Linked DNA regions of Homo sapiens. The protein of the gene in region 2 purifies or fractionates together with the protein of the main gene of each other region. This does not show direct contact. Each region holds a gene or a part of one and is shown on either strand. Other genes may lie near its edges.

Region 1 (3,821 bases), on a different chromosome or scaffold from region 2:
GCAGGAGAATCGCTTGAACCCAGGAGGTGGAGGTTGCAGTGAACCGAGATTATGCCACTGCACTCCAGCCTGGGTGACAGAGTGAGACTCTGTCTCATAAATAAATAAATAAAATTAGAATAATCAGTGTCAGCATTAAGCTAGTGCTGAGATCATAACCACCGTAAGCAGGCACTCAAAGAGAAGGAAGACCAAGGTGCAAAACAGGACTCAGGGAAGATCTCCCAGGAAGAGGGATTCCAGCCTGGCTAAGGAGCAGGAAGGGAAAAGGGCATCAGCTAGGATTTGCTCCTGTGTCACCCAGAATACTACTTGCCCACCATGACTACCAGTCTCTCACCCCCATGTCTCCACCATTAAGGGTCTTTAGTCAAAGGGAAGACACAGGGTCTTGAGGAAAGAGGAAAGGAGGACCTAACAGAAGAGACCAGAGTTCCTGGTCTTAACATCCCCAGTCCTGTGATACGCATGTTTCAATACAAACTTCCAAACACGCCCGTGGGTGAGCAGAATAGAAAAGCACGAACTGTGTGCAAGACTATTTATTAATGCATACCTAGGACACACCTCTCTACTACTCACAAATCATATTGCCCAACTTTTTCATAACCCTTTTGGCTCTCATTTTGTTTAATTCTCATGTTTAACCTCTTGAGGTGCTGATAACTGAAAACAGATGTCATTAATTTCCCTTATAATCTTGACCTCCCCATTGTTACTGAAAGTGCTACCATTCTTAGGGAGGCATATGTAATGCATTCCTCTCTCTACACATCTATGTGTCAAGGCCTGAAGAACTCTAAAGTGCCTCCTGGACTGATCTTCCATCCAGGGCTACAAAACCCACCAGCTATCTCGTCCTTGTCAATCCATCCTGCAGAAGAGAATCTAAGCTATACTTCGTGGCATCCCTCTGAAATCATACCCCACTCTTTCAAGATCTTCCGATCATCCCAATACCCAAAATTAAACAGATGTGAAAGAGAGAGAGCTTCAGGCCATTTCCCCAGTAATTCTCTCAATTTGGGAGAAACAGCTACACCAGTGGTTCAACAGCATCTCTGTGATTTGATATGGTTCTGTTTCATGTTTGTGCATGGTGCTGCTGGGAATACAACATAACTCCTCTGGGTGTTCAGGAGTGAAAAAGGGCTGAGGATCACAATCCAGCCCAATCCCTATTCTACAGAAAAGGGGGAAAGTACAGTTGCTATAGCCTGATCCTCTAGGTACTGCCCAACACAGCATACAAAGGAGCTTTGGTTTATTTCCTATTCACACACTCAGGCTCTTGCTAAACCGAGTTACTTGAGACTGCCCACACTTTACTATCAGTGCCTGCTGCTCCCTCCCGCTCCCGCTCCCTCTCCCTCCCTCCCTCCCTCAATCTGCCTTTCCTTACTCTCCACATGCCCATCCAGGAAGTGTATGCCCACATCAATCCCCTTAAATGGGGTATATTATCTCGCCCTCCTTAAAATGCCCACTGCACTGCGTACCTCGCATGCAGCAATCAGAAATTATACTGAAAAGATATTGACACTGATAGGAATAATATTGTCAAACCAGTGACAAATTCTGCTTGAATTTGAATCTATGGTTCATTCATGGCATCTCTGCCACTGATCTCCAATGTCACAATCCTTAGAGGACATAAATCACTAACTCTCCCAGGGTAACACCAGGGTTTTTGTTTCATGAAGTTATCAGAGGTTCCAAGTTTTAAAATTCCAGGTAAGTATTCTCAGAAGTCTCACACAAGACTGAGACTGCAACACAAGAACCATTCTGTTTTAAATATAATTTCTTAAAATTAGCAAATGCTTAATTTCAAAGTGCTGTCAGAACCTTACCAAATGCCTATTGAAAACACTTCCTATACAATCCTTCTCAGTATATTGGCAATGTCATAAAACCTATAGGCTGAAGTAAGTCTAAATTTAAAAAGTAAAAATGAATTAAAGCATTATTCAGCGATATGCCTTTAGCTTAAGCAAAACTAGGTGATTTCAATTTTATACTAAAAAGTTGGCATCCTTACATTTTTTCCATAAAAGGAAAACAATCTTCAATGAATAAACCTTTCATGACTTTAGTAATGTCAACTAATGTCTTTGCATTGTTACATTACCTACAAAATACTGAGTTATTTCTTGTATTAGGAGTGAGCTATTTCTTATGTTAGGAATGTCACGTCAGTACTTAAACCAACCCTGTAAACTATAAAAATTAATCAAATTACTCTAAATTACCAATAAGGTAAATTCCTCTTTCAGCCTTCACAGTACAACAGGATTCAAACTCATCAATCATACTTCTTTATGTGTTATTCGGATATCTTAAACCAGTTCTAAAACTTTTTTTCTTCTATCTACACATTTACCTGACAGCCTTCCTCCAGGAAGTACAGACTAAAAAACCAATGAAACTGGTACTTAGCCTAATCAACTCACTGTCATGCATTGTTACTCATTCCAGGCAAGTGGGCATGTTCTAAAAGTTTAGAACTCAAAATGTCACATCCGGGGGGTGGGGGGCAAGGGGAGGGAACTTAGAGGGCCGGTCGGTAAGTGCAGCAAGCCACCATGGCACACGTATACCTATGCAACAAACCTGCACGTTCTGCACATGTATCCCGTTTTTTTTTAGAAGAGATAAGGAAAAAAAAAAGTCACATCTATTTTACCATAATCTTTAAAAATAATGTGTTGCAAAAGGTAAAGCATCCAAATTAACATCACAGCCAATAAAGGAAAATGCCTGGCAAGCAATATGAAATAGCAACTCAAAAACAAAGTAACTCTTGCAATGAAAAACGTTCACAGAAAAAAAAAAAAACATTCACTGATCAAATTGTCCATCAAAAACCAATTAGAAAAAACAACAACAACAAAAAACAAAAACAAAAAACAATTAGACCAATTTTTAGTTTCCTAAATCCAAAGTATTTAGAGATTATGACACCCACTGTAGAGTTATCAAAACTTCATCTATTACAAGTTCTTATCTACTAACAATAATTTATCCAACCAATCTTTGATGAGCACCTGCTATGTGCAAAACTCTGTTACAGGAGCTGCAGGGGGAATAAGCTCAATACTTATCTCTAAGGAGTTAATAATTTCATATAAGGATAAGACAAGTAGACACAAGTGTCATTAAGAAAAACAAAATGTCAGACCAGGCACGGTAGCTCATGCCTGTAATCCCAGCACTTTGGGAGGCTGAGGCAGGTGGATCAACTGAGGTCGGGAGTTCAAGACCAGCCTGACCAACACGGAGAAACCCCGTCATTACTAAAAATACAAAATTAGCTGGGCGTGGTGCTGCATGCCTTTAATCCCAGCTACTTGGGAGGCTGAGGCAGGAGAATTGCTTGAACCCAGGAGGTGGAGGTTGCAGTGAGCCAAGATTGTGCCATTGCACTCCAGCCTGGGCAGCAAGAGCAAAACTCCTTCTCAAAAAAAGAAAAACAAAATGTCACAAAAGTATCAAAAGTAAACACATTTTTCTTAAAGGACACCTAGCTACAAATTGTAATTTAAGTCAGCATATGCACACCCATCAATCTTAAATATTATTTGCTATGCCTTCGAATAGGACTTAAAGTTAGCTGAACTGTCCTGCCAAAATGTCTCAGCTCTTTTTAACCAGAAAAAACTTCCTCCAGGGGTGTATGCAATTCAGTCTCCGTGTTTCAATTACCGGCTCTGGGTGCAAAGAAGACCAACATGTGATTTCTTAAGGTAAAAATTATTACTATAAAAAACGTACTAGGCTGGGCGCGGTGGCTCACACCTGTAGTCCCAGCATTTTGGGAG
Region 2 (3,821 bases):
TATTATAATTATCTTAAATATATTTATAAATACATATATAAATAATAATTAAAAAATAACATTTCGTGCTTTGCCTTCATCTTGAGGCTCGGCTTCAAGAAGTATTTTACCAAAATGACCTCCCTGATTAGCATAAAAAACTGTTGCGGCAGGAAGGCTTAGGTATTATTCCCTCCATTTTGAAAATGATAAAACTGAGGTCCCAGAAACTTATGCTATTTGATTAAGAGTTCATCAGCAACTTAAAAGTAGAAGGCAAACAGTTGAAATGAAATCATGAAATCCTAGGTCTGTGGCTTCTTGTTTCAACTGCTATTGTGCATATTTCTTAGTTTTCTTATGCCTTAATTTGCCCATCTGTAATATGGGTAGAGTCTTTTTGGTAGCCATAGTCAGTAGCTCTGGTCCTCCTAAAATTGTTATGAAGAATAATAATTAAAATGATTGGTACTATGCAAAATATAGGGTGTTCTTTAAATAACAACATTATATGTTAGTGTTGGTTCCACTCTTACAAAGAGTGTAAACATTCATTTAGAATTACAAGGCTCAGTACATGCTCAGCAAATGACTAACAGTAAAGGATTTAGCTTCTTCATGTACATGGTACATATGAACTGTCAACACTGCACAAGTGAGACAAGTGAGACTCCAGACCTACGCCTGGTTTTCCAGTATCTGAAAGTCAGTGATAGAGGGTGGCCCCCCTGCCAAGCACACCCAGTAGTCTTGCTTTGTGGCAATAAACAAGTTTGGATGGGCAACTGATGTGAAATAGTTCTTAGTGCCGTGAGTTTCCCAGAAGAAGAGGAGGTTGGTCTCACTACCTGTGATGGTTTTGGGTATCTCAGGCATCTCCTATGAAGAAAAGAAGAGAATTCTGTTAGAGAACAAGATGGTAGAAAAAGGACTGAAGCTCAATCCCTTAGCATTTGGCCTTCATGAGAAACAGCACTTTAGGACTATGGCTGTAACATGATGCTATAGGCTCTTCATTCATTTGTTCATTCAGCAAGCATTTATTACATGCCTAGTAGATGTGTGGCCCAGTCTATTAATAAGAGTTGATTTCCTTAGTTGATTGGAGAGAGATCTAAATTAGTTATGAAGATTGTCAGTGACACTAGTATCTTACTGTATCCAGGCAGGTAGGAGGGAAACATTGTTTCTGTCCTGCCTTCAACATAGGCCTAAGACATTTTGCATCAAATCTGAGCACTACAGTGATTCTAAGCCCCCTAAACATTTTGATCTCCAAGTGAACAAATCATACCTTTGGAAATCAATTTAGCATTTAGATGACATTTATCTCAGTATTTAAGTCAACAATTGAAGGTTAAACACACGCACACACATACACACACACACATACACACAAAATTCCTAAGTATATCAGTAAACTCTTTCAATATACTCTTTAGAATGTACTTTTCTTGTGAGTATGAGTAGAATTTAACAATACTTTTATGGAAAAATAGATTTCAAATTCCAAGTTGAGATGCTTCTTTCCTATTCTTTTAAATCTAAAGCAAGTAAATATACTTTTGAGGCTTCCTTGGGGTTTCCAATGTCAGCAGGATTTATTTCCCAAACCTATTCCTCTCCTACTTTTTCCCTTCTCAGTAAATGTTGTTTCTCCTCTTCCTTCTGTTGGTTCTATCTCCAAAATATAACCCAATTCTGTCTGTTTCTTTCCACTTCTTTTCCTTACCCCACCCCCATGACTGCTGTGAAACCTCCTCATTGGACTTTCTGCTTCTCTATTGCCTTCCTTCTGATCTGTTTTCTATTTTAGGAAATATAAGTGAGGTCAGGCCATTGCACTGTGTGAAACCCATTAATGGGTTTTCATTGTACCTCAAATGAAATCCAAATGCAAGCTCTGCAAGCACTAGTCTCTGCATATTTTTCCTCCTTCTCAAAATGCCCCAGTTCCAAGAATGCTTCTTCTGATCCTTGGAGCTGTCCTTTACCATCTTGAAGTTGTAGGCCTGGGTGCATTCAGACTCCTCTGAATGTCCCAAAAACCCACAACCATGACCCGCCCCCTCCTCTGAATGTCCTACCCAAAAACCCACAACCACGACCCGCCCCCTCCTCTGAATGTCCTACCCAAAAACCCACAACCACGACCCGCCCCCTCCTCTGAATGTCCTACCCAAAAACCCACAACCACGACCCGCCCCCTCCTCTGAATGTCCTACCCAAAAACCCACAACCACGACCCGCCCCCTCCTCTGAATGTCCTACCCAAAAACCCACAACCACGACCCGCCCCCTCCTCTGAATGTCCTACCCAAAAACCCACAACCACGACCCGCCCCCTCCTCTGAATGTCCTACCCAAAAACCCACAACCACGACCCGCCCCCTCCTCTGAATGTCCTACCCAAAAACCCACAACCACGACCCGCCCCCTCCTCTGAATGTCCTACCCAAAAACCCACAACCACGACCCGCCCCCTCCTCTGAATGTCCTACCCAAAAACCCACAACCACGACCCGCCCCCTCCTCTGAATGTCCTACCCAAAAACCCACAACCACGACCCGCCCCCTCCTCTGAATGTCCTACCCAAAAACCCACAACCATGACCCGCCCCCTCCTGTCGGCAGCTCTCATCTCACAAGGGGCTTTGTTTTTACCACTTTGTCTAAATAGCACTCTCCCACTTTTCTCTATCTTAGCACCCTATTCATTTTTTTTTTTTTTTGCAGCATCTTGCTCTTTTGTTGGTTGTTTGGGTTGTCTGTTTTCCATATCCTCCAGAAGACTAAGTTCTATGAGACTAGAGGCTTTGATGCACCACTGTCCACACTGCTGTTGGCACTATGCCTGAAAAATAGAAGGCTCTCAGTGAATAATGCTTGTTGAATGAGTTCATGAATGAAGCTACTGCCCTACTCTGTAGACATCACTTGATCCAGGTAGAAAAGCACAGGCAGGCACATAAATTCTACTTGGGAATAGAAGGTCTTGGATTATATACTTACAAATTGAGTCACCTACTTATCAGTGGAGAAAACATCTAAGGCTGTTGTGTGTGTGTGTGTTTGAGGGGGAAAGTGGTAGTGGAGACAGGACTGGGACGAAGGATAATGCTGACATCAATGCAGAGAGAGGGGAACTGGAAGCAGCAGGCCCCATTTTGGGACTTGGCTCCCAGCTTGTTGCTTTGTGCCCATTGGCAGGTGATTAATCCTCTCTGATCTCAGTTGGCTTATTTGAGTTTCTTGGAGGCAGGCCACATTGTCCTAATGTCTAGTATTGTGTAGGTCAGATAATAGATGTCAGTAAAGATCAATGGAATAAATGGATGCTCTGGGATGGGAGGTGAATAAGGTCAGGCAGGGAAAGGAAAAAGAAAGAAGGTAATTTTCCTCTTACTCTCTGTTATATTTTCTCATAGAGCCTGCCTAGGCACGCCTCTGGAATCAATGGGAGTGGGGTGGGCAGGTGGGGGCTGTGGTAGGAAGGAAAGAGGACAGTGTCACCTTGTTAGAGGTGTCTGCCTATTGGGCTTATTTACAAACATATGAGATGTAAATGAAGGTAAGTTGGAGACAAAGGACAACTGACCTTCAGCAGCACTGGTTGGTCTTCATCTTGGGCAGTCACATACAATTGAGTTTTTGAGATTCTTAGAATCACGGTAATTTTAGCATCATCCTTTGATGACTTATAAGCACCCATGTCAAATTTCACTGGTGAAGAGAAGAACCAAAAAGAAAGTAAATTCATTGTATTTGTATAAAATCAAGTGTTGATGTAGATTGTGTGTGCATGGTGTGTGTGTGTGTGTGTGTGTGTGTGTGTGTGTGTG

Evidence for each region.
Region 1: the proteins of IL1A (region 2) and BPTF purify together in Homo sapiens (affinity purification with mass spectrometry; one large-scale study listed by BioGRID and IntAct). This does not show direct contact.

Annotation. Positions count from the first base shown.
Region 1 is NC_000017.11:67,828,185-67,832,005, reverse strand, and holds part of BPTF (nucleosome-remodeling factor subunit BPTF), read right to left. Parts: intron 1-3,821. UniProt on the Homo sapiens protein: Regulatory subunit of the ATP-dependent NURF-1 and NURF-5 ISWI chromatin remodeling complexes, which form ordered nucleosome arrays on chromatin and facilitate access to DNA during DNA-templated processes such as DNA replication, transcription, and repair.
Region 2 is NC_000002.12:112,774,410-112,778,230, forward strand, and holds part of IL1A (interleukin-1 alpha precursor), read right to left. Parts: intron 3,703-3,821; coding exon 3,578-3,702; intron 859-3,577; coding exon 658-858; 3' UTR 1-657. UniProt on the Homo sapiens protein: Cytokine constitutively present intracellularly in nearly all resting non-hematopoietic cells that plays an important role in inflammation and bridges the innate and adaptive immune systems.